Linked DNA regions of Homo sapiens. The protein of the gene in region 1 interacts with the protein of each later gene in a pairwise test. Each region holds a gene or a part of one and is shown on either strand. Other genes may lie near its edges. The genes, in order: SPANXN2, ZNF75A, SP3 and KHDC4.

What was found.
Region 2: the proteins of SPANXN2 (region 1) and ZNF75A interact in binary tests that used the Homo sapiens proteins (3 or more experiments, as listed by UniProt).
Region 3: the proteins of SPANXN2 (region 1) and SP3 interact in binary tests that used the Homo sapiens proteins (3 or more experiments, as listed by UniProt).
Region 4: the proteins of SPANXN2 (region 1) and KHDC4 interact in binary tests that used the Homo sapiens proteins (3 or more experiments, as listed by UniProt).

What each region holds. Positions count from the first base shown.
Region 1 is NC_000023.11:143,717,748-143,724,643, reverse strand, and holds the start of SPANXN2 (sperm protein associated with the nucleus on the X chromosome N2), read left to right. Parts: upstream 1-3,891; 5' UTR 3,892-3,975; coding exon 3,976-4,053; intron 4,054-6,896.
Region 2 is NC_000016.10:3,308,463-3,315,503, reverse strand, and holds part of ZNF75A (zinc finger protein 75A), read right to left. Parts: coding exon 6,668-7,041; exon of another isoform or gene 4,558-6,667; intron 3,856-4,557; exon of another isoform or gene 3,752-3,855; coding exon 3,556-3,751; intron 2,828-3,555; coding exon 2,736-2,827; intron 2,456-2,735; coding exon 2,329-2,455; intron 1-2,328. UniProt on the Homo sapiens protein: May be involved in transcriptional regulation.
Region 3 is NC_000002.12:173,900,262-173,906,401, reverse strand, and holds the end of SP3 (transcription factor Sp3), read left to right. Parts: 3' UTR 1-5,627; downstream 5,628-6,140. UniProt on the Homo sapiens protein: Transcriptional factor that can act as an activator or repressor depending on isoform and/or post-translational modifications. Binds to GT and GC boxes promoter elements. Competes with SP1 for the GC-box promoters.
Region 4 is NC_000001.11:155,931,414-155,938,292, forward strand, and holds the start of KHDC4 (KH homology domain-containing protein 4), read right to left. Parts: upstream 3,001-6,879; 5' UTR 2,961-3,000; coding exon 2,923-2,960; intron 2,437-2,922; coding exon 2,220-2,436; intron 1-2,219.

The DNA.
Region 1 (6,896 bases):
GCCTACTTCTGTCAATTTGTCAAACTCATTCTCCATCCAGTTTTGTTCTCTTGCTGGGGAGTTGTGATCCTTTGGAGAAGAAAAGGTGTTCTGGTTTTTGGAAGTTTCAGCTTTTTTGCCCTGGCTTTTCCTCATCTTCATGGATTTATCTATTATTGGTCTTTGATGTTGGTGACCTTCAGATGGGGTTTTTGTGTGGATGTCCTTTTTGTTGATGTTGATGCTATTCCTTTCTGTTTGTTTTCTTCTAACAGTCAGGCCCCTGTGCTGCAGGTCTGCTGGAGTTTGCTGGAGGTCCACTCCAGACCCTGTTTGCCTGGGTATCACCAGCAGAGGCTGCAGAACAGCAAATATTGCCGCCTCTTCCTTCTTCTGGAAGCTTCGTTCCAGAGGGGCACCCACCACATGCCAGCCGGAGCTCTCCTGTATGAAGTGTCTATAAATCCCTCCTTGGAGGTGTCTCCCAGTCAGGAGGCATGGTGGTCAGGGACCCACTTGAGGAGGCAGTCTGTCCCTTAGCAGAGCTCGAGCATTGTGCTGGGAGATCCATTGCTCTCTTCAGATCCAGTAGGCAGGAACGTTTAAGTCCGCTGTATCTGCGCCCACAGCCACCCCTTCCCCCAAGTGCTCGGTCCCAGGTACATGGAGTTTTATCTATAAGCCCCTGACTGGGGCTGCTGCCTTTCTTTCAGAGATGCCCTGCTCAGAGAGGAGGAATCTAAAGAGGCAGTCTGGCTACAGCAGCTTTACCGAGCTGGGGTAGGGTCCGCCCAGTTGAAACTTCCCTGCAGCTTTGTTGACACTGTGAGGGGAAAGCCACCTACTCAACCCTCTTAATGGTGGACACCCTTCTGCCCACCAAGCTGGAGCATCCCAGGTCGACTTCAAACTGCTGTGCTGGCAGTGAGAATTTCAAGCCAGTGGATCTTCGCTTGCTGAGCTCCATGGAGGTGGGATCTGCTGAGCTAGACTACTTGGCTCCCTGGCTTCAGCCACCTTTCCAGGGGAGTGAACGGTTCTGTCTCGCTAGCATTCCAGGCGCCACTGGGGTATGAAAAAAAAAACTCCTGCAGCTAGCTTGGTGTCTGCCCAAACGGCTGCCCAGTTTTGTGCTTGAAACCCAGGGCCCTGGTGGCATAGGCACCCGAGGGAATTTCCTGGTCTGCAGATTGCAAAGACCATGTGAAAAGCATAGTATCTGAGCCAGAGTGCACTGTTCCTCACAGCACAGTCCCTCACAGCTTCCATTGGCTAGGGGTGGGAGTTCCCTGACCGCTTGTACTTCCCAGCTGAGGTGACACCCCACCCTCCTTTGGCTTGCCCTCTGTAGCCTGCACCCACTGCCTAACCAGTCTCAGTGAGATGAGCCAGGTACCTCACTTGGAAATGCAGAAATCACCTGCCTTCTGCATTGATCTCGCTGGGAGCTGCAGACCGGAGCTGTTCCTATTTGGCCATCTTGCCAGCCACTCCCTTTAATTGTTTATTATTCATTTGGGTTGAAAATATAATTACTGAAGTTTTCAATAGGAGTTATTCTATAAAGTACGTTGTAATCTTTCAATAGAAATATGCACTAAATGTTTTCTTAACATTTGGATTAATTTTCCTTGGATAGTGATATACCCATTGAAACATTTTTGGTAAACAAATTTAGAAAACAATTTTAAAAGGTAGTAAGATGATTGAAAGCTGTTATTTTCAAAAATTGTAATCAGTTTCTGACTTACTGTGTTTGATGTGGCATATGCCTTTTGGTTTTCTGTTTGTTTTGTTTTCCATAACATGATATGACAGGGTGTTATTCTCACTGTTGATTGCAGGCAAGAGTACAAAAAATTATTAGAAGTTAGCTTGTGAGCATTTAATAAATGGAATTGTTGAACTATAGACAATGTCTGGGGTTCACTAAAAATGTATACCTTAATAAGAATCTTCTTTTGATTTGTTAATGTTTAGATGACAGTCATGAGAATGCAATAAATGCCTTGTGTCTGGAGGTCAGCGGGGTATCTTTCTAGGCCTTTCTTGTTTTTATGGTGTATAAAATAAAGTTATGTGAGCTTGATGAACACTGGAACAAAATTCCAGGGTCTACTTCTCGTTTGTCTTATTTTTAGATTTTTTTTTTCATTATCAGGTTTTGTGACTTCTTATAGAGAATGAGACAAGTGTCAGTCAACCTGTGGGAGAAATCCTGGGCCATGCCTTCTCTATTTTCAGTCCTCTTTCTTACTGTCTTTTAAAATATTTTTAGATTTTTATTTTGAAACAATTATAAATTCACAAGAAGTTTCAAAGATACGTACATGGAGGCCTTTTGTACCCTTCAACCAGTCTCTCCCAATAGTAAAATCTTCAATACACTACCACATTACACTATCAAAACTAGAACATTGACAGTGATGCAATCCAGAGCTTTTTAAGATTCAACACTTTTCTTTTGACTATTCTAGGCACTTTATATTTCCATAGGAATATTATAATTATCTTGTCAATTTCTATTAAAAAGGCTTTTTAGAATTTTGATTAGAATTTAGTTGAATCCACAGATGAAATTGGAAATAACTGCCATTTTACAATATTGAATCTTCCAACCGAAAATCAAAGTATAGATCTCAATTTTTTTCTTATGTCATTAATTTATCATTGTAAATTTTTGTAGTTTTAAGTGTACAAGTCATTTACATCTTTGGTCAGATTTATCCCTAAGCCTTTAATATTTTTAGTGATATTTTAAATTGCACTGTTCTTAGTTTCAACTTTCAGTTGTTGAAATTAACTTCCAGTCCACCCTAGGACTACCATTGGCTAAAACATTGTCTCTTCTAATATAGAAACTTCTCATATGTAACTGCTAATATATAAACATACAATTGATTTGTGTGTTGATCTCTTACTTTGCAATTTTGCTAACCTCAATTAATGTAGAACCATTTTTTTAGATTGACTTTTCTACATATACTCTCAGGTAGTCTTTGACAAAAGATACTTTTACTTCTCCCTTTCCAATCTGAATGCATTTTTTTTTCTTTTACACTGGACACAATCTCCAGTACAAAGTATAACTGTGCCCATACTGGTGCACATGTGGGTCTTAGATTGTAGCATCCTGCAGGTAAATACTCAGAACAACTTCCAGCACTTGAATATCCACTCCTTCCCCCACCCACATACTGGCAGAATTCATGTTGGGATACTACATTTACTATGAACATAGACCCCTGATTTGAAACAAGACTAGGATACATGGTAAAGAAAGTTTATTCACCAAAGTTTTGACAGACTGAAGGCCATTATTTCAGATTGGAGATAGGAAACTTAAAAGAACTACATGGACATTGGGTAAAAGAACATGGGTTGAAATTTGCCTGGCAGTAGCCTAAAAGTAAATGGTCTTCAAGGTGCATGTGAAGGAACTGTAGGAGGGAAATGGGATAATTCACATCTCCACCAATAATTAAATGTAGCCACACTAGCTTGGAGGGATTTGAGGTGAGACATCTAAAATACTAAGTCATGGTGAGGGCTGGAAGACAAAAGAATGAATGACTTCATAGGAATGACTGTGGGGAAGGGCTTGAAGGAATCATCCTCTCACTTCCATGTGAACCATGAACATTAAACATGGAGAAATGAGCAGCAGCAGATTAGTTTGGGATGCATCTTCAGGGGATGCTGAAACAACAACAGCATTTGGTTTCCTCTACACCCCTGTCATCCGTCCCCCACAAGCCCAGGGAGTGGTCAGCAGTGGTGCTTTGTGATGTCTAAGCCACCCTAGGACTGCCATTGGCTGGGACACTGCCTGTATGATCAAACAAAGCTCAAGAGTGTGGCTTTGCCTTGCCACCAGGAAGGTATACATAGGGAGGGCCAGAGCTCTGGGACATCCTCCTGGCAAGCTTCAATATAGCTGTGGAAGTCTGCAGTCTACAAGAGCCTACTATAGACATTCTACAACCAAGCAGAATCATGGAACAGCCGACTTCAAGCACCAATGGGGAGAAGAGGAAGAGCCCCTGTGAATCCAATAACAAAAAAAATGATGAGGTAAGATTGTTAGGTTTTGAAGGGAAGGTGAGGGTGAAAGAAAGACACACAGAGAAGGGACGGCTCAAACAGCAACACAGGAATACTGCAGACACCTGTGGAAGTGGGGGACCCGCTTAATGCCAGAACCCACCGCCGCTTACAGGCTGGGGTGCTTATAGGTATGGGTGGGAGGGGCCGGGGCAGTATGGCTTGCTGCCCGGCAGGATATTGATAAGATGTTTTTATGATCAGGCTGTTTGGTCCTTTTTCCAGTGGGATGTCATTGTGGTGTTTCTTGGAACTTTGCCCAGCAAGATACCATAGGAAAGTTTCTTTAGTTGGACCTGTGTCCGCCTTGTGTTACGACGATTAGGCAAGATTTTTCTCATGGCCCGAACCCCCGTGGAATGTTTCACTTTGATCAAGGTCTGCAAAATAGCAGGGTGCTTACTAAATGGTGGTTTGGACTCACATTCTTGCCTTCTACTTTAGTATAAAAGGAAGAGGGGCATTGTTGATTATCTGGCTGCTTGCTGCCGAATAGGGGAGCTGTAATCAGGGTTTGGGTTTTGAAGCAGGGGGTGACGGACTTCAGAGTTGTTTTCCTGGAGGCACTGGTACCGGACTTGGCAGAGGAGAAGGATGGTATCAATGTGTTGCTGGGTGGCTGCCTGGAGAGGGGAGTTTAGCCTTCGGGAGATAAAGCAGGATATGAAGGTGAGTATACATCGGCCAAATGTACTATCAGGAGGAGGAAGATTAACGGCCCTAAGAAAGGGACCACCTGCTATCCCAGTGCTGAGTGCATCAGAGATGTTTAGTTCTGCTAACACTAGAATGAGATGTACAGCCTGCTTAGTGTGTGTGGAGGAAGATGAGACAGAAGCTACTAAAGGAACCTGGATGGTCTGCTTGTTAGGCAAAGTGTTAATGTTTAGATTGAAACACAAGGGTGCATGTTCCTGACCAATTGGCCAGTAGGCAGAGATAAGAGTTTGTGCCGCAAAGGAAGAAGACACTAGGGGTGGACAGACAAAAGTTGTAGGTTATGGTGGCAAGTCATGAGAAGGTGGGGGTTGAATTCTGCACAAACCCTTTGTTTTAACTTTTATGTTTTTCCAAGTTGAATACCTGCCAGCAAGGGTAGCCCCTCTGAAGGCCTGATAGGAAATGTTGGTAGTGGAGGAGGTGAAGGCTGTTTGGTTTTGGAGAGAGAGCAGGAAATGGGTTTTTGTAACTAATAGCCATTGCGGTCCTGACAGCGCAGAAGGATACAGGTTGCAGTTGAGGGAATTGTTTGTGGATATTTTCCAGGGAGCGCCCTTGACTTGGATACATGGAGAGCGGCTCCGGCAGAAAGGGGAGGGGTTGATAAGAGGTATTTTCTGGAATCCGACTGGTAACATGTTTAGTTAAGAGGCTATGAGGTGAAGGAGGGTGACAGCCCTGTGTGTGACGGTGTGGGTGGATTTGATGGATTGGTGGGGGGGGAAAGGTGATTAGCCGAGCAAGATTATAAGCAGGTTTTGCGAATGAATTGGTCAATTAGGTGAAATGCAGGTTTATTTTGGACAGGGTTCATGTGGCCAGGTTAACAGGAAGGGCTGTGAACTACTGGATTTGTGTGGACAAACAAATTTAACAGTTGGAAGGAAGAGGGGAGTGTGACTGATTTAAGAGGCAGTGAGGCTGATGAAGGGGGCTCATCTGTTAGACGTTCGGGGTGGGGACTTAGAATATCCCACAGATAGAGAGGACAAAAGGAGAAAGAGGAGATTTGAGTAGGAGTGAAATTTTGGAAGGTGCCCTGAAGTCATATCTCCTTGATTAGTGTGACAAATTGGCCTGGACTATTCAGGGTCATGGGGAAGGGAAACCAGGAAAGATCTGAAATAAAGTAGGAGACAAAAGATTGGAAACTGGAGACAGAGAGTGTTATGGACTAAGGTGTTCTGGATTGGCAACTTCTGGAATTCTTGTTAAGTACAGTGAGGTTGGTCTTGTCAGGGAAGGAGAATAATTTGGGGGTGAACAAATTTCTAGATGTGGATCTGGTGCTCTTTTTAGTTTGAAATGTGCATTCAGTGTGCAAAGGATGTTAGCTTTGGCGCTGTGGGAGTAGTTAGCATCACCTGGTGAGAATTCCTCCACTTAGGTTGGAGAGCGGGGGAGGAGGAGTCTGTGATTCAGACCCAGCCCGCTGGTTGTAGGGACAGGGAGGAGTGTTTTGAGGATGGACTTTTAGGCTGGGTCAAGTAAGCATTTGCGTACTGTCTTATTAGATGTTGGGTGAGGTGTAACGCCGGCCAAGTATTCCATATAGAATGGGGGGAAAATACAGGGAGATTCTGGAGGATAAATGGAGCATTTGTACATGAATTTAAATGGGCTTAGGCTGAGCGCTTTTAGGAAATGACTCATAATCGCATGAGGAACAATGGGAGAAGTGAAGTCCAGGCCATTTTAACCTTTAAGGAGAGTTTGGTTAGTTGTTGTTTTTTATAAAATTTTTCCTGAAGATTCGGAGTGGTAAGGAATATGGAAAGCCCATTTAATGTTTAGAGCCTTTACCAGCTGTTGGTTAAACTGAAACAAATTGGCCCATTGTCTGACTGGATGCAAGAGGGGAGTTTAAACCGGTGGATAATATGGGTGGAGAGAATAGAAGCGATGGTGTGTGCCTTTTTGGTGGTGGTAGGAAAAGCTTTTATTCATCCAGAGAATGTATCTACTATTGTTAGAATGTATAGGAATCACTTTCTGGGGAGCATGTGAGTGATGTTGATTTGCTAGTCCTGCCCTAGTAAGTGTCCTCAGGTCTGGTGTGTGGGAAAGGAGATGGTTTGATAGCTTCCTGAGGG
Region 2 (7,041 bases), on another chromosome or scaffold:
GACAGTACTAGCTGGGCACGGTGGCTCACGCCTATAATCCCAGCACTTTGGGAGGCCAAGGCAGGTGGATCACAAGGTCAGGAGATGGAGACCATCCTGGTTAACATGATGAAACCCTATCTCTACTAAAAAAATACAAAAAAAATTAGCTGGGCATGGTGGCGGGCACCTGTAGTCTCAGCTACTTGGGAGGCTGACGCAGGAGAATGGCATGAACCCGGGAGGCAGAGCTTGCACTGAGCTGAGATCGCACCACTGCACTCCAGCCTGGGCGACAGAGCGAGGCTCCATCTCAAAAAAAAAAAAAAAAAAAAACATGACAGTACTTTGTTTGCCCTGAGCAACTGGATAATGCTGATGCCCCTTACTGAGATGGGAAAAACATGATGGAGAAGGTTTGGGGAAAGGGAAAGGGAAGGGATCAAGATCTCCACGTAGGACAAGGAATGAGCACGTACATCTGGAAAAGCTCCCCAGGTGATCTGGATACACCACCTACACCCTCCGCTACACTATCTAGTTGAGAATCAACCAGCTCCTGGAACACTGAGACCCTCTCACAGAGGTTCATTCTCAGTAAACTGAGAACAGATTGCTCAACTTCTACACAAAAAGAAGGGAGAATCTTTACCTAGACAAATGACAGTCTTACAGTTTTCCTGCATTACATCATTGTAGAGGGCCTTCTGAGTGTAATCCAGTAACTCCAATTCTTCCTGAGAAAAATATATGGCCACTTCTTCAAATGTCAACAAGCTCTAAAGAAGAGAATGGACTTCAGCTCTGAACTTGCCACTGCAGAAGCAGCCTAACTGCGTATGAACTGCATGGTAGGCCAGGTGCTAAAGAAATTAACAGAATACGATTTAAGAAAAAAAAAGGCGGGGGCCCACGGGGGCGAAGGCAGAAGAAAAGGAGCCAAGGGATCAGCAAACAGCCTAGGAGGTACCCAGTTCCCTCTGGGCCAAGCCTAATTGTCCAGGGTAGAACCTCTGGGGCTAACATGCCTCAGGGCACATGCTGGGCAGTGTGGGTCTTGGGCAGCAGGGAAAGGCAGATAAGGTCATGCTCAGGTAGCCCTACACTGCTGGAAAGCACAGCTCAACTGGGACTGAGGCAAGAGGAGCTCAGGTGCCACTGTCCAGTCTTTGGTGTTTGTCTGCTCAGGAAAGACTAAAATCTGTTGAGCAGGCACAGCTGTGGGTGGAAAAGAGCCAGAGGATATTTCTCTTGTTTCTATGATCATCCTTAGCTCATTTCTAAAATACAGAAAATCCTGATTCTTTCTGGAAAGATAGGACACCTTTTTAAGAGTGTGTATGGTAACCACTTGGTTCTTTGTAAATTAGAACCAAGTGTCTACCAGCCCCTAGAACCGGTTCCCCAGATGATTATCCTCAGTTTTCAAGAGGAAAGTTAATAAAAAGATATATATATATAGCGTTTTTTCCCCTTGCATGATATACATTTTTCTGAGTTGAGCAAAACTTAGATGTACTCAATTTGAAAATGAAGTATTCAGGAAGCCCAGTGTGCCAAATAAAATGAAACAAGAGGGTAAAAATGAACTTGACAAATTCAATTAACAGCAAGGAGACTAGCTAAGTGGCTGGTGAGGACTGAGCAAGGGCTTCAGTAGCAAATGAGGGCAGACAGATGAGCAGGAACCAGACTGTAGAGTGTCCTGGAGCCCTGGTAATATCAGACTTTTTTTTCTGAATGTAAGTGACCACATGCTTTTGAGGAAAGGAAATGTCATGATCTGATTAGGTTTTTAAAAGATCAATCTAGCTTCTGTATAGAAAACAGACTGTGGAAGGGCACAAGGAGATGCAGGCGCACCTGTTAAAAAGCTACGCATGTATGCCTGGTTCAAGATGACACTGGCTTACACCAGGATGCTAACAGTGCAAGAAGATGAGACATTGTTGCAGTCAGGATATGTCAAAGTAAAGCTAAGAAAACTTGCTAATGAATTAACAGTGGGGTATGATGACAAGATCAGAATAAAGGAAAACTGTTACTTTGTATGCCTTGAGCCACTGGATAATGAATGTGCCCCTTACTGAGATAAGTAAGACACAGAAGAGGAAGTTTGGTGGAAAAGAGAAGGAAAGGATAAAGGACTCAATGTGGGATAAGCAATCGGCATGTACATTTGGAAAAAGCTCCACAGGTGATCTGGATACACTACCTACACCCTCCCCTATACCATCTAGATGAGAATCAACCAGCTCCTGGAACAGTAAGACACCCCTCACTGGGGTTCCTTCTCAGTAAGCCAAGAATAGAGTACTCAACTACATAAAGGGAAGGGAAAATCTTTACCTAGAGAGATGACAGTCTCATAGTTTTCCTGCATTACATCATTGTAGAGGGCCTTCTGAGTGGGATCCAATAACTCCCATTCTTCCTGGGAAAAATACATGGCCACTTCTTCAAATGTCAACAAGCTCTAAAGAAGAGAATGGACTTCAGCTCAGAACCTGCCACTGTACAGAAGCAGCCTAGCCACCTGGCTATGAATTGGCCAGGCGATAAAGGAATTAAAAGAACATGATTTTTTTAAGTGAGAAGGCAGAAAAAAAGGAGAAAAGGCGTCAGCCCACAGCCTGGGAGGTACCCAGTTGCCCAGAGAACACCCGGGACTAACACACCTCTGAACCCCTCCTGGACAGTATTAATCATACATAGCAGAGAAAGGTAGCCCTCAACAGCTGGAAAGCACAGCTCACCTGGGACTCAGGCAAGACGTGCTCAGGTGTCACTGTCCAGTCTTTGGTGTTTGTTTGCTCAGGAAAAGCTAGAATCTGTTGAGTAGGCACAGCTGTGGGGGGAAAAGAGCCAGAAGAAATCTCTTTTATCTATAAACATCCTGAGCTCATTTCTAAAACACTGATCCTGACTTTTTAAGTACAGATGGGACACCTTTACACGTGTGGTGTGTGTGATGCCTGAAGCAGTCTCTTCATAAATAAGAATCAAATATCCACCAGCCCCTAGAACTAGTTCCCCAACTAAATGTTTCCTCAGTTTTCATCAGAGAAATAAAAGGGAAATCCCTTTTTCCTCTCATATTTTTCTGAGTTAGGCAAAAATTAAAGATATCTTAAAATGAAGTACTCAGGGACTCCACTGTATGGTAGGAGATGAAGTTTTTTGTCTTTTATTATGTTTTTCCTGGTACACAACTGTTTTCACATTCTGCCACTAACAGCCCATCTGATCTCAATTCCTTCTGTATTTTACAAGGATGAAGTGGCCCCAAGCCTTCCCACTCCATTTCTTTCCTTCCTCTCCACTAGTCTAAGGAACAGAGTTCACACTGTTATTACCAAGAGTTCTGTGGTTTAGATATTTCTGTTCTCTAGGCCTACTCCCACTTTCATCCACAGTTGGCATTTCTACTGCTGCCTGGAAGGACATCATAGTTGCTATCAAGGCTGGTTTTACAAATCCACAGAGCAGGGTATTCAAAAAATGCCCATGACATTTTGGGTGAATAAACTATTATCACAGCTCCCAGGAGAAGAAAATTATCATGAAGCTCCTTACCCCTCTCATACACAGGCTCAGTCTCTTTATGAGTATTCCTGCTGAGCTGTTCTTGCAGACCCTCGTATGTATTCCAAAATTCTTCATCTTGGGATACGCCCACTGGTTGGGACTCTGTTGGCTTCAGCCCGAAACTTGAGGCCTCTGCTGTTTCTCCCAAGAGCACTGCCTCCTTTCCCAGCTCATGGACTGCAACCTAGAAATAATTCCCATCCTTGTTACCACAGAACTTACTTTTGGTTTGTGGGGGTGGAGGCAGAGCGACAGGTGTACAGCCCACATTGTGGGTAGTATAAGACACTAAAAAAAATGACAAAAAAAGGCTTAAAGAGATACTGGGCCACCAATGCTCCACAAATGACTATACACAAATATGAGAAAACTAGGGTGAAAGGAAACAAACTGTGGTGCCTGCCAGCCCTTTAACACAGCAGCTTCTACTCCTCTGTATACGGTCTAGGTCAGGCCACTGGCAGGGTTGGGCAGCCCACTCATTTTTTTTTTTTTTTTTGAGATGAGTTTTGCTCTTGTTGCCCAGGCTGGGGTGCAAAGGCATAATCTCGGCTCACTGCTACCTCTGCCTCCTGGGTTCAAGTGATTCTCCTGCCTCAGCCTTCCAAGTAGCTGGGATTACAGGTATGCACCACCACGCCTGGCTAATTTTTGCATTTTTAGTAGAGACGGGGTTTCTTCATGTTGGTCAAGCTGGTCTCAAACTCCCAAACTCAGGTAATCTGCCCACCTCAGCCTCCCAAAGTGCTGGGATTATAGGTGTGAGCCATTGTGCCCAGCCAGGCAGGCCACTCATTCTAATACTGTCTTGTCAGGCCTTTTCTGTTGACTTCAATCCCACAGTTGTGGTTTTCTGTCTTCTAGTTTTCTCTAAAATTCAAATAAATGAATTTAAAAGTTTTCCTGTCAGCCTGATTATCCCTATAGCCAGCGAAGGTTTTCAGAGAATGGGGATAGAATGGAGAAAAAAGGGGAGTGGCTCCAACCTACCTCCAGATGATTCTGACACCAAACATAGGTCCTGCCCTGTATTCTTCCCAGCAGACCCGAGGTCAGCAGATGTGTCGCCACCCACCAAGTTCATACCCTGGCTCCCAACTTGTCAGCAGAGCCAAGGAACAAGCATTAAGGGAAGGCAGTAGAGACTTTCATCTACTATAGGGAGGACATTACCCATCAGTGCATTTCCTGTCCTTGGCTATTCTGTTGGGATTTTTCTTTTTTCCAAATCTTTGTTTCCCTTTTTTCTATGTTTTCTTTTCTTGTGCAGTCTTCCCCTAGTTGTTTTTTTTGTTTGTTTGTTTTGTTTTGAGACGGGGGTCTCACTCTGTCACCCAGGCTGGGGTACAGTGGTACAATCATGGCTCACTGCAGTCTCATCCTCCCCAGGCTCAGGTGATCCTCCCACCTCAGCCTCCCGAGTGGCTGGGACTACAGGCACACGCCACCATGCCCAGCTGATTTTTGTATTTTTTGTAGAGACTGAGCTTCACCATGTTGCCCAGGCTGGATTTTTCCTAATTTTTAAAAACATTTTTTTTTTCACATGGAGTCTCGCTCAGTTGCCCTGGCTGGAGTGCAGTGGTGCAATCTCAGCTCACTGCAGCCTCTGCCTCCCGAGTTCAAGCCATTCTCCTGCCTCAGCCTTCTGAGTAGCTGGGATTACGGGCACACGCCACCATGCTCAGCTAGTTTATGTATTTTTAGTAGAGACAGGGTTTCAGCATGTTGGTCAGGCTGGTTTTGAACTCCTGACCTTGTGATCCGCCCGCCTCAGCCTCCCAAAGTGCTGAGATCACAGATGTGAGCCACCACGCCTGGCCTAAAACATTTTTTTTTTTAAGAGACAAGGTCTCACTCTGTTGCCCAGGCCAGAGTACAATGCTGCAATAATAACTCACTGTAGCCTCAAACTTCTGGGTCAAGCAATTCTCTCACCTCAACCTCTTGTGAAGCTGGGACTAGAGGCATGTGCCATCAGCCTGGCTTATTTTCTTTTTTTTTTTCATAGCAACAAGGTCACACTATGTTCCCCAGGCTGGTCTCAAGCAGTCCTCCCACCGCGACCCCCTAAAGTGTTCGAAATATAGGCATGAGCCACCGAACCTGGCCAATTTCTCCTTTTCTTTAAGTGTCCTTGTTTTCCTGTGTTCTCCTTGTGGATCTGCCTTTTTTTTTTTTTTTTGACAGGTTCTCACTCTGTCACCCAAGGGAGTGCAATGGTGCCATCTCAGCTCACTGCAACCTCCACCTCCTGGGCTCAGGTGATTCTCCTGACTCAGCCTCCCAAGTAACTGGGACCACAGGTGTGTGCCACCATGCCTGGCTAATTTTCATGTTTTTTGTAGAGACGGGGTTTCACCATGTTGCCCAGGCTGGGCTCAGGGGATCTGTCTGCCTTGGCCTCTCAAAGTGCTGGAATTACAGGTGTGAGTCACTGCACCCGGCCCGTTTTTTTTTTGTTTTTTTTGTTTTTTTTTTTTTTGTGAGATGGAGTCTTGCTGTGTTGCCCAGGCTGGAGTGCAATGGTGCGATCTCGGCTCACTGCAACCTCCCAGGTTCAAATGATTCTCCCTCCTCAGCCTCGAGGATAGCCGGGATTACAGGCACCGGTCATCATGCCCAGCTAATTTGTTTATTTTTGTAGAGAGAGGGTTCCACCATGCTGTCCAGGCTGGTCTTGAACTCCTGACCTCAGGTGATCTACCCGCCTCAGCCTCCTAAAGTGCTGAGATTACAGGTGTGAGCCACTGCATCCAGCCTCCCTGACTCTTTATTACCTTTTATTCTGTTTCTAAGTACTTAAGTCCTGTCTCCTTGGCCAAGCCAGACTAGGCCCAACACCCTCAATTCACCCTGGCTCCAAAGAGGGCAAAAGCAACTCTCTTTCTCTAAGGCCAGGGAAGTATCTACCACAATCTCTGAAACCTGTGAACTTTTCTGTGGGCCTGTAGTTTCAAGTCCCACCTTAACTGTCCTTAAAAAAAAAACCAAACAATGACCTACCTAATCCATCTAATTTCTCAACTAACTGCCACCATCTCTACTATATCCACCTGCATCCTATTTCACTGTACATGTCAGGAATCTTTCTTCTCACCCCATTCCATGTTTGACCAGATTCCCTCTGCAAGTGTTCTACCAGAGCCACAGCCTCCTCAATGCTCTGTGGATGGTGCTTCTGCATCTGGGTCTGTGTCTCCCTGGGCAGAATAGTCAGGAACTGCTCCAGCACCAGCAGTTCCAGTATCTGCTCTTTTGAGTGGATCTCTGGCTTCAGCCATAGATGACATAATTCTTGAAGTTTGCTGACAGCCTCACGGGGTCCACCTGCTTCATCATAGGTGAAATTCCGGAAGTGCCAGCAAGAGCTCTTAGGATCGAGACAGTCCATTTGAGGAGATTTTTTACTCTGACCGGAGCTCTCTCTTGCAGGCCCCTTGGTCTCCCACAAAGCCCTGATCTGAGGGTCCA
Region 3 (6,140 bases), on another chromosome or scaffold:
ATTGATATCTTTGGTACAAATTTGATATTTTTGTGAAATCACCTCATAATTTTATTTAGTGTTGAAGAAACAACATTGGCCCCTTGCCTTGTTCAGACAGATTTGCGTATAATGTAAATATATATATTAGTGGCAGAAACAAAGTACTGTAGAAACCTAGAAGAGGGAGAATTCTGCATGAAGTCTGGGAAACTCAGCAGAAATGGCGTTTGCAAAGGTACAGTGTGGTATGTTGGGTGATGGGGGACTTTGTGAGGGACAGAGTGGAAAAATTTTTAAGAGGGGCTGCCAAATTGCAAAAGAGAAGAATTTTTTTTGTCAGTGATTCCTAGTCTTTTTGGAATCCTACACCTTCTCCCCAGAAAAATTCATTCTAGTCCAGGGTTTATTGTTTGTTTTTTCCCTATATTTGACAGGGTCTGTCTCTGTCACACAGTGCAGTGGTGCAATCATGGCTTACTGCAGACTCCACTTACTGGTCTCAAGCAATCCTCCCCACTTCGGCCTCTTAAGTAGCTTGGACCACAGGTGCACACCACCATGCTCAGTTAATTTTAATTTGTTTTGTAGAGATGGGGTCTCACTATATTGCCTAGGCTGGTCTTGAATTCCTGGGCTCAAGTGATCCTTCCACCTCTGCCTCCCAAAGTGTTGGGATTATAGGCGTGAGCCACCACGCTTGGCCAAATCTGGAGTCTAAAGGGTATACAAGGTTTTTTTTTTTCCCATGTTGGCTTTTATTTGATGTTATAAAGTCTTCATGATATGAATATATTTTTTAAAAAGGTGTCATGTATATTGTCATGTAACATGATTCATGCCACTTCATTGTATTAAATACGTTTAAGATACAGTTTTTGATGTTAAGAATGATATCCTGAGAAGGCCTATCTCCTTCAGTCCTTTTCCCCATTTTTCACCTTTTAACTCTTGCTTCTGAATCTATGCTAAGCTACTTACTAGATGTGTGATATTGGTAGTTTTCTTACCTTAAAACCTCATTTTCATCATCCATGAAGAGGCTAACAATAGTACTCCCTGTTGATAGGATTGTTGTATTAAAATATAAGCATTCAGCATAGTGCCTGACTTAACGGTAGAGATTCAAATGGTAACCTCCTTCCAATGCCTTCCTCCCCCCTTAACTCTGGAGATTCCATTTTTCTGTAGTGAAGTGTTTTAGAATTTTCATTGTTTGACTATGGTTCATACATTGATTTTTCCAAAATGAGAAGAAGTCTTATTTCTAATGCAAAAATGTGAAAAGAACAGTTGGAACCTAAAGTGATAGTGGATGAAGTGTCTGAAGTGACTGCCCTATCAGAAAAGGATGGAATAAGAAGAAAAGACTGAAGCACCTAAATGTGTATTTTCTTGAGGAAATTACACCCCTGTGTAAGAGTCTATCCTATTTGAACATTTCTAAAAACCAGCCGAAGAATCTTCAGGTTCATTGCGACTGAAAGATAAAGTCTAGCACTGAAGTGGTTTTTAAGATTAGGAAAGGCCATCAGAGAAATGCAGTTATTTCTCCCCTCCATCCTTCCCCCACAAAAAAAAGTCTAAGCCTCCGATTAATCGACAACAACGAAATACAGGAAGTATTGGCTTAGTGACCTTTTAGGATATCTGTCCGACTTACATCCCTTCTCTGAGCATTACTTTCTGCCACCTTCCGTGAGGAGCTGTTCAGAAATCAGACAAGGAGTGGACATCTGGTCAAAGTTGAGCCAATTAGATGATTTCTCCTGAGAATTTGGAATTGGAAAACTGATGTCTTGGGAGGTCACATCTGGAACATACATGGGAGGCAGAGAAAGCAAAGATGACATTCAACCCCAGAAGAAAAAGAAAATGGCTTTCTTGATTCCTGATAACTTGGCAGTGTTTGTTCCAGTGTCTTGCATTTCACTATCTGCATTTCATCCTCCTGGGGTTCCACAAGATAGCCTTAAAACCTTACAGAGAGACTCCCCAACTTAGTTTTTTCTTAAGTCAGAAGGCTGTTACTTGCTACCAAATAATGCCAACTAAGACAACTGAGGTACAGTATATTCTCTCGTAAAACACCATAGAGTTGATGACTTGATCCTATAGAAAAGGGTCCCCAACCCCTGGGCCACAGACCGGTACTGGTCCCTGGTCTGTGAGGAACCACCTGGGCCACAGACTGGTCCTGGTCCCTGGTCTGTGAGGAACCAGGCCATACAGCAGGAGGTAAGCGAGCATTCCTGCCTGAGCTCTGCCTCCTGTCAGATGAGCCACAACATTAGATTCTCATAGGAGTGCGAACCCCGTTGTGAACCCCGCATGCGAGGGATCTAGGTAGTGCCCTCCTTAAGAGAATCTAATGTCTGATGATCTGAGGTAGAGCAGTTTCATCCTACAACCATCCCCACCCCCCGACCCCCATCCATGAAAAAATTGTCTTCCTCAAAACTAGTCCCTGGTGCCAAAAAGTTTGGGGACCGCCGTCCTAGGAAATACCAACAAAAAGTCACGTTTATTGCCTGCCAAGTGAGTCAGGTTTAGACAAGGCAGAACTTAGTATATAGCTTGGATGAATCAGAAAGGGTGGGCCTTGAAAGACTGGTAGAATGTGTCCAAGAAAACTGATTAAAAGCCTTAGAAGTCCCTCTACAGTTTCAGGACGCCCTCTTAACAGATGGCTGTATCTTTATCTGTGGTTGGTCTTGTGGAATACTGACTTTCTGCCAGCATTAGCCTGTGTTTCTATGTCACACCAAGTCACGTATATTTTCATTGTGTGTTAGGACTCAGAATAGGTTTGGGTCTTTCTTTTAATTATGTATACCCAATTACTTAGTCCTCCTCACACCCTGATCCTTTAAAAATTCTTAAGTTGTGTTAATTGCATTTTTCTCAATTCTACTCCTAGTAACTCTGTGTGTTTTTTTCCATCTTTATTCATTTAGTAAAGTTGAAACCTTTCATAGCATAATATAGTGATTAAGTGCATAGGTTTGGGACTTAGACACACATGGGCTTGCTTGTCTCCCAGTTCTGCCGCTTACCACCTATGTGACCTTTCACTCTTTACCTTTCCACTCTTAGCCTGTTCTCTAACTATAAAATGAGAATGATGCTAGCGTCATCTTCATAGAGTGATTATGGAGATAAATAAGTTAATGCATGTAAACCACTTTCCATAATGCCTGGCACATATTATATTATGTATTAGTAAATGTAAGCACTGGAAGAATCAGTAGTCTTCCTACACTTGAAAATAGTTGTCTTCAACTATTGTTGTATTAATGAGTTAATTCACCTTGTTAAGTCACCTTGATCCACCTAATTGTCAGCCAACATTTATTAACGAAACTGCTAGTATTCGTATTGTGCCTTTTTTATTATGAAACATTTCAAGAATACAGAAAAATGCAGAAAACAATGTAACAAATACCTAAGTATCTATCACCCAACTTTTATAGTCTTATTTTTACCTATATATTTTTTCTTTTAGAAAGGAATGATCACAGTTGTGCCTGAAATCTGTATAGCCCTGTCTCATTTCATTTGTCTCCCTTTACCCACATAAGTAATTGCAGCTCTGAATTTGATGTTTATCAGAATGATACCATGAGTGGTTTTATATCCTTATTATATGTATGCATACCTAGGATTGTTTTTCTGATTTTGAAACTTCATATAAATGGTATCATTCTGTACAAAACCTTCTGGGACTTGTTTTACCACTCATGTTTTTGAGATGTATCCACACTACCATCTTTCTCTAAATCATTCATTTAAATGCTGTAGTTCATTGAATAAGTTTATCACAATGTATCCATTTTCTTCTTGATGAGCATCTCAGTTATTTCCAATTTTTGACTTATAAACAATGCTGCAATGAAATAATTGACATATTTCCTTGTGTACATGTGAGCATTTCTTGAGATATGTATCTAGAACTTGAATCACTGGCCAACAGGATATTCTTAATCTTCAGTTTCACCAGATACTTCCAAATTGATCTCCATAACATGCATACCAAATTATATTCCTACCAGCCATTTATAGGAGTTCACATTTTTTCCATACCCTCCCAATCCTGCCTTGGCAGATATGTTTTTTCCAATGAATAACAATGAAATTTTGTTTTGGGATTTGACAAAATGATTCTAGATTCATCTGGAAGAAAAGCAAGTATAAGTAAGAAATTTAAAAGGGACCTGAAAAACTAAGCAATGGATATATTTAAAAATTGGTACCAGTAGGGATAACCAAATATTTGTTAACTGTAGCAGAAACAATGCATGTTTTTCTCACTGGTTCCACCTTCTATCTCTCAGTCAAGCCCTGCCCAGGTGTGGTAGTCCTCATAGTCTCTCACTGTAGGGGTCTTCTCACATAGTAGACCACTCTCTTGAGTTGAATATTGAAAAGAAGGCTTGGCCGGGGGCAGTGGCTCATGCCTGTGGTCCCAGCACTTTGGGAAGCTGAGTCGAGCGGATTGCTTGAGGTCAGCAGTTCGAGAGCAGCCTGACTAACATGGTGATGAAAAGTACAAAATTAGCTGGGGGTGGTGGCGCATGCCTGCAATCCCAGCTACTCGGGAGGCTGAGGCACGAGAATCGCTTGAACGCAGGAGGCATAGGTTGCAGTGAGCCGAGATTGCACCACTGCACTCCAGCCTGGGCGACAGAGCAAGATTTCGTCTCAAAAAAAAAAAAAAAAAAAAAAAAGGCTTAAGTCCAACTAACTGTTTCCCTGCTGTTCATTTTATCCAACGGCTGGGGATATAGGCTACTGCACATGATGGGTTGATGGATGTGAAATGATAACTCATGACTTTAATTCTAATTTTTCTATATTCTGGTGAGGTTGAGCATATTTTTACAAGTTCATAATCCATTTTCCTCTGATGGGAGTTGCCTGTTTGAATCCTTTGCCCACTTGCTTTTTGGGGTTATTTGCAATTTTTTGCATTGATCTTCAAACATTCTTAATTAATCCCAGGTACATATTATTTTATATATAAGATATATTTTAGAGATATATAGGCTGATAGTATCTTTTCTCAGTCTAAGGCTTATCTTTTAATTTTGTTTATGGTGTTTTGTGTGTGTTGTTTTGCAGAAGTTTTATTGTATCTGAATTGTGGCTTTTGTGTCTTAAGAAATTCTTTACCTACTGTCATAAAAATTTTTGTCTAAAAATTTTATGATTTTGCCTTTCTATTTATCTTGTTAATTCACTTTGAAATTACTTTTGTTTATGGCATAAAGTCCATTATTTTCCATATGGATAATCAGTTGTCTTAGCAGTTTATTGAATGGTCCAACGTTTCCCTGCTGATTATAATGCCCTCTCTGTTATTTATCCTAAATTCTTGACATCCGGTAAGGAAGTCTCCTCTGCCCACCCTTCTCTGTATTTCAAAATGGTTTTGACTGTTCTTGACCCCTTGCTCTTTCTGTGAACTTTAGGATTAAATGATTATGTAGAATTAAACAATCGGGTTAAGGTTTTTTATTAGAATTACATTGAATCTATAGATTAATTTGGGGAAAGAATGTTATCTTTCTATCCATGATAATTCTGTATCTCTCCATTAATTCAAGTCTTTAATGGTTTTTAAAAATAAATTATTGTCTCTTTGAAAATCCTTACACATCCTTTATTGCACTGATTCGTATGTAGTTTATGTTTTTGTTGTTGCTTTGGAGAATAGGCTTCTTAAAATTAAATGTTTAAATTGATCAATGCTGGAGTATATAAATGCTATTGATATTTGTAAAATGATTTTGTCTAATAATCTTACATAATTCTTTTGCTGTTCTAATAGTTTGCCTGTAGATCCTATACGATTTTCTGTGGAGACAGTCATATTGTCCTCAAAGAAGAAAATGTTTGTCTCTTCATTTCCAAGTCTTGTGCCTCTACTTTTAATCAACAGCTTAATGTTAAACAGAAGTGGTGGTGCCAGACATCTCTGTCCTGCTTCTGACTACTATTTACTTTTCTTTCTCACATGTAACTATAACATTATTCAGTTCTTATAACATGGTAAGATAGGTGGAATAGGCATTATCTCCATTTCTAGTTAAAGCTGAGTGGGCCAGAGTATCACTCCAAAACACACAGCTAGTAGATGTCAGAATATGTACTCCAGACTT
Region 4 (6,879 bases), on another chromosome or scaffold:
GCAAACCCATCTCTTCAAAAAATAAAAAAAATTAGCCGGGCATGGTGGCATGCGTCTGTAGTCGCAGCTACTTGGGAGGCTGAGCCTGGGAGGAAGAGACTGTGCCACTGCACAGTCACTGCCTGGGCAATCAAGCCAGACCCTGGAACCACAGGCATGCACCACACCTAGCTAATTGTTTTTGTATTTTCTGTAGAGACAGGGTTTCACCATGTTGCCCAGGCTGTTCTTGAACTCCTGGCCTCAAGTGATCCACCCACCCGCTTTAACCTCCTGAGTAGCTGGGACTACAGGGGCCTATCTCCCCAACCTATGTCTAGAAAATCTGCTCAAGAAGGTAACATACTGTTGTTTACTTTGTGCATTAAATACATTTTTTAAATGTGGAGGCAAAACTAAATACAAACTCAGCAATATCACCTTACCTTTATTTAACCCCTTATAGTATTCATTTACATTATCATCTCAATGAATCCTTATGGCCGCCTTTAATAGTACTTATCAATGTTGTCCAAGAGAACTTTTGGTGACAAGGGTTCTAGTCTATCAGTCGAATATGGTAGCCATTAGCCACATGTGTCTCTTGAGCACTTGGCAGGTGGCTAATGTGACTAAAGGTCTAAATTTTAAATTGTATTTTGGTTTTGCTTTGCTTTTTGCTTAAACAACAGGAATTTATTTCTCACAGATATGGAGCCTGAGAGTATTTAATTATTTGTATTATTTAGACAAGGTGTCACTCTGCTGCTCAGGCTGGAGTGCAATGGCAAAATGACAGCTCAATGCAACCTCAAGCTCCTAGGCTCAGGTGATCTTTCCACCTCAGCCTTCCAAGAATCCAAGAAGAATTACAGAGGAGCTGGGACTACAGGTGTGAGTCACCACACCCAGCCCCTTAATTTTAATTTAAATTGCCACATGAAGCTAGTGACTACTGCACTACACAATGCAGGTATATATTACCAACGAGAAAGCTGAGTTTCATTATGCCAAAGCCATGTAACCAGTAACTGTGGATTCTGGGTTTCAAACTGTGGATTCTGGGTTTTTAGGTTTTATGATTCTAAATCCAGTGTTTATGTATCCTGCTGAGGTCAACTACCTAAAGATTATTATTTTAAGAAAAAAAAAGAGCTTAAACGATTAACATCAGTATTAAAAATCTTAATATACAAGGAGCACTACATCTTTGTCAAGATGCTTTTAATTTTTCCTCATAAACCTTATAAATGGATGACTGACTCACACAATCTTTGCAAACAATAGGCTGCGCCTGGTGGCTCATACTTGTAATCCCAGCACTTTGGGAGGCAGAGATGAGCTTGGTCAACATGGTGAAACCCTGTCTACTAAAAACACAAAAAAAAATTAGCCGGGCATGGTGGCATGCACCTGTAATCCCAGCTACTCGGGAGGCTGAGGCAGCAGAATCAGAATCACTTGAACCCAGGAGACAGAGGTTGTAGTGAGCCGAGATCACCCCACTACTGCACTTCAGGCTGGTGACAGAGTGAGACTCTATCAAAATAAATAAATAAATAAATAAAACCCTACAGGTTCTAATTAGAGATGACACTATGGGGCTCACTTGATTTACCTGAACTCCTCTGACTTCAGGGAAAAAGCACATATATTAAAAACATGTTATGTTGCTTTAAATGACTATGGAAATACAGCTTAAGCTGAACTAAGTGAACAAGGACAAGACAAGGTATTTGGTCCATAAATGTAATCAGCCCAATCAAAAACGCCTCGTAAATATGTATTTGTAACAAAATGTGTTCTGGAACATTCCAAAACTAAATGATCTCTCAACTACTATATCCATTTATCCTTTACTAACACAAATTATTATGCGATTACAGGATTACAAACAACTTTTTTTTTTTTTTTTTGAGACGGAGTCTCATTGGGTCGCCCAGGCTAGAGTGCACTGGCACAATCTCGGCTCACTGCAACCTCCGCCTCCCGGGTTCAAGCAGTTCTGCCTCAGCCTCCTGAGTAGCTGATTACAGGCGCGTGCCACCATGCCCGACTAATTTTTGTATTTTCAGTAGAGACGGGGTTTCACCATGTTGGTCAGGCTGGTCTCAAACTCCTGACCTTGTGATCCACCCGCCTCGGCCTCCCAAAGTGCTGGGATTACAGGCGTAAGCCACCGCGCCCGGCAAAACAACTATTAAATTCGCAATTAGTGGAGACCCTTCAACTTCAAATACCTTCTCAGAAGCATTCTGAGTTGGTTTCAGCTTCCCTTTTGCCATGAGCATGGCATTAATCTTGGCAGCCACAGCAGCAGCAGCATCCAAGGCTCCTGAAGGAGCAGCTGTGGTGCCCCCAGGACTTCCCCCACTGCTGGTGACCTCCCCACCTGGGGCCGCTGGCGGGAGGAAGAGAAGTGGGGCTGGAGCTGGTTGGTCCCATTTGCTGCGGCGCCTACATGGAGAAAAAGGAAAACATTAGGCCCCAAAGCTTTCGTGTATGTTATTCTTTCCTTACTACGCCTTAGCACCCCATTTTCCCTCTATTATATTCCATTTACACCTCCGAATCACCTTCCAAATCTAAAACTCCCCTCTCCTTAAACAATTATTGCTTATTTAACAAACCCCCACTTTCAACCCTTCCCCAAAATCTTTCGTTTCTACTGTCACCTATATCGAAAGACTCCACTCTATCCTACACGCTCTAGTTTACGCCTTCCCCTTGGCTCGCCCTTCCAAAAGTCCCCGTTTGCCTCCTCCCTCGGATCCCCGCCGGCCCTTTAAGGGCCCCAGGCCTGCTCAAGATCCTTCTCCCCAAACGTCCAGCCCTTTACTTCCCACTTAAGGACCCTTCCACCCTATACGCAGCTTCTCAGGGTCCCTCCGCCTCTCCTGCGCCCCAGTGCTCGCTCCGATGCCCTCGCCCCTGAAGCCGTACCCGCCAGCTCCAGGATGTGTCGCGCTCCCCGCGGACATGGCGACCGCTTCTACTCAACCACCCGCCAACTATCCGACTACCACCTCTCGTCACTTCCGCCCCCAACGTTCTTACGCACAGCCTCTTCCGGTCGTGGGGCCGAGCGGTTCCGGTGAAAATGTCGATTCCGATTGGACTCTCGATGATTTAAAGGCATCTGGCGTTTCTGAGGCAGGTAGGGTGTGATCTTCCGGGTTGCGCCTTAACCTTAAGAAAGATGGCTGCTGTGCCTACTATAAATGCGGAATCGGGGCTAGCTGAATCCATCTTTATCGTGGGCATGTTGTTAGACTAGAAGACAATATGCATGAGTCAGGAGATTAAACAGGTTTCTCCTCAAATTCCGCTACGTTTGTGTTGAGTCCTAGTTTCTGTCTGGGGAGACAGCCTTCCCGCGGCTTTTGCCCGTTTCACGTTTCTGTTACTTAGGAAAAGGAAAAGGATTCGTTGCAAAGATCATTTGGAGAATTTCTCTGTTTGTTTGCTTCATTTCTGTGCACCAAGCAGGGAATATAAAAATAAAAAGATGAATAAGCCGCAGGCCCTGCCATTCTGGTACTCTCAATGTGGCAAGGCAGGTACGCAGGCAAATATGTATGATAGAGTTGTATATTAAGCAAAGGTCGAAGAAGATAAGCTGCTCATCTTGCTGGAGCGTTTAAGAATGGGACGCTAAAAAGCCGGTTGAGTACTGGAGAGGCGATCAAGCATAGGTTATGGAGCACCCTGTTCTGGCATCTGTGTACTTAACGGTTGAGCTGGCTGGAGTGGGAGGCCAGAAGATGAAAGGCCTTGAATGCTATGCTGAGGAGTTTGAGTTGATTCTGTAGGCTAAAGGTTTCTTTTTTTTTTTTTTTTTTTTTTTTGAGACAGTTTCGCTCCGTCACCCAGGCTGAAGTGCAATGACGCGATCTCGGCTAACCACTCTCCGCCTCCCGGGTTCAAACGATTCTCCTGCCTTAGCCTCCCAAGTAGCTGGGATCACAGGTGCCCGCCACCACGCCCAGCTAATTTTTTGTTGTTGTTGTTTTGTATTTTTAGTAGAGACACAGTTTAGCCATGTTGGCCAGCCTGGTCTCAAACTCCTGACCTCAGGTGATCCACCCGCCTCGGCCTCCCGAAGTGGTAGGATTACAGGCGTGAGCCACCGCGCCCTGCCGAGGCTAAAGGTTTCTAACCTTTAGGATGTCTTGGAGCTTCAATGAGTCTCCTGATCCTCCCACCTCAGCCTCTGAAGTAGCTGGGACTACAAGCACGGGCCACCACACCTGGCTTTTTTTTTTTTTTTTTAAGAGACCGGGGTGGTAGGGGGTGCGGGGGTGGGGGGTGTCTTACTATTTTGCCTAGGCTGGTCTCAAACTCCTGGGCTCAACCGATCCTACCACCTCGGCCTCCCCAAAGTGCCCCTTTTCCTCTTCTCCCCAAAACACAATGCTGTTGGGATTCTGATTGAAATTACATTATTTATTATATTTGTCATTTTAAAAAATTTGTGATGTAACTCCTATGCCATAAATTTACCCTTTTTAAAGAGTAAATTTAAGTGCACAATTCAGTGTTTTTTAGTGTGTCCACAAGATTGTGCCACAATCATCATTATCTAATTCCAGATTATTTTCATCACCCCAAAAAGAAACCCCTCACCTGTTAACAGTCACTTCACATTTCTCTTGCCCCGCAAGACATGGGCTACCACTAATCTACTGTTTCTCTGGATTTACCTATTTTACACATTTTATATAAATGGAATTATACAATGTGTGACCTTTTGTATCTGGCTTCTTTCACTTACAGTGTTTTCAAAGTTTATTCATGTTGTAGCATATGTCAGAACTTCATTTTTTTATCACTGAATAAACTTCATTCTTTTTTATCACTGAATTTCTTTTCCATTGGATGTATAGACCACAATTTATCCATTCATCCATTGATTAACATTTGAGTTGTTTCCACCTCTTGGGTATTGTAAGTAGTGCTGCTGTGAACATTCACAAGTATTTAAGTATCTGTTTTTAATTCTTTAGGGTTTACATGTAGAAGCAGAATTGCTAGGTCATATGGACATCTTGTTTAACTTTTGTGGAACTGCCAAACCAACTGGCTACACTATTTTACATGCCCACCAGCAATGTACCAGGGTTCCTATTACTCCACATCATCCCCGACCCTTGATATTTTCAATTTTTTAAAAATCTTTTTTCTTTTTACTTTCCTTAGTCTTTCCTGTGTCGTATCTTTTTTTTTTTTTTTGCCTTGTTAAAGAACCTAGCTTTTAGTTTTATTCATCAATTCCATATTAATTTTTTTTTTTTGAGATGAAGTTTCACTCTTGTTGCCCAGGCTGGAGTGCAGTGGCGTGATCTTGTCTCACTGCAACCTCCACCTCCCGGGTTCAAGTGATTCTCCTGCCTCAGCCACCTGAGTAGCTGGGATTACAGGTGCGTGCCACCACACCCAACTAATTATTTGTATTTTTAGTAGAGATGGGGTTTCACCATGTTGACCAGGCTGGTCTCCAACTCCTGACTTCAGATGATTTGTCGGCCTTGGCCTCCCAAAGTGCTGGGATTACAGGCGTGAGCCACCACACCCAGCCTTCCTTTTGGGAAAATTTATATTGTTTTCCTCCCTTACTTTTTTTTTTTTTTTTTTTTTTTTTTGAGTCTCACTCTGTTGCCCAGGCTGGAGTGCAGTGGCGCGATCTCGGCACACTGCAAGCTCCGCCTCCTGGGTTCACGCCATTCTCCTGCCTCAGCCTCCCAAGTAGCTGGGACTACATACAGGTGCCTGCCACCACGCCCGGCTAATTTTTTGTATTTTTAGTAGAGACAGGGTTTCACTGTGTTAGCCAGGATGGTCTCGATCTCCTGACTTCATGATCCGCCTGCCTCAGCCTCCCAAAGTGCTGGGAATACAGGCATGAGCCACTGCGCCCGGCCCCCCTTATTTTCTTAAGTTAAATGTTTAGTTCACTTATTTATAATTCTTTTTTTTTTTTTTGAGATGGAGTTTCACTCTTGTTGCCCAGGCTCGAGTGCAATGGTGCTATCTCAGCTCTCTGCAACCTTCACCTCCCAGGTTCAAGTGATTCTCCTGCCTCAGCTTCCTGAGTAGCTGGGATTACAGGTGTCTGCCACCATGCCTGGCTAATTTCTGTATTGTTAATAGAGATGGAGTTTCACCATGTTGACCAGGGTGGTCGTGAATTTCTGACCTCAAGTGATCCTCCTGCTTCGGCCTCCCAAAGTGTTGGGATTCCAGGTGTGAGCCCCGTGCCCAGCCTTATAATTCTCATAAAAGTCTTAATTTCACCAATAACATTTCTCTTTTGATGGCCAAGTGAGGTGACTCATGCCTATAATCCCAGCACTTTGGGATTCCGAGGCTGGTGGATCACTTGAGGCCAGGGCAACAGAGTGAGACCCCATCTCCACAAAAAATAAAAATTAGCCAGTGTGGTGGCACTTCTGTAGTCTCAGCTACTCAGGAGGCAGAGGTGGCAGAATCACTTGAATCGAGAAGGTTGAGGCTACAGTGAGACATGATCACACCACTGCACTCCAGCCTGGGTGACAGAGCAAAGAAACATAAAATAATAAAACATTTCTCTATTGATACAACGGAATCTGATTTTCTAAACTCAATTCAATAGCACTTTGTTCTACTGTTAATTGAAAAACTCTCTCTAAAGTGAGATACGTTAGGCTGAGGTCATTTTTCCTTTCTGTTGGGTGCATGGTCAAAAAATTGACATATGAATCAATTATTCTTTCCTAGTGGTCATTTAGGTATTATTAGGTCATTTACTACCAACTCTAAAGCAGTGACACCATGGAGAGCACATAAAATCCATAGAGCTAGGTCCCATAACCTCTCTGTCAGTCTCCTCTCCTTGCTACTCCCCCTGTGTTTCAGTGG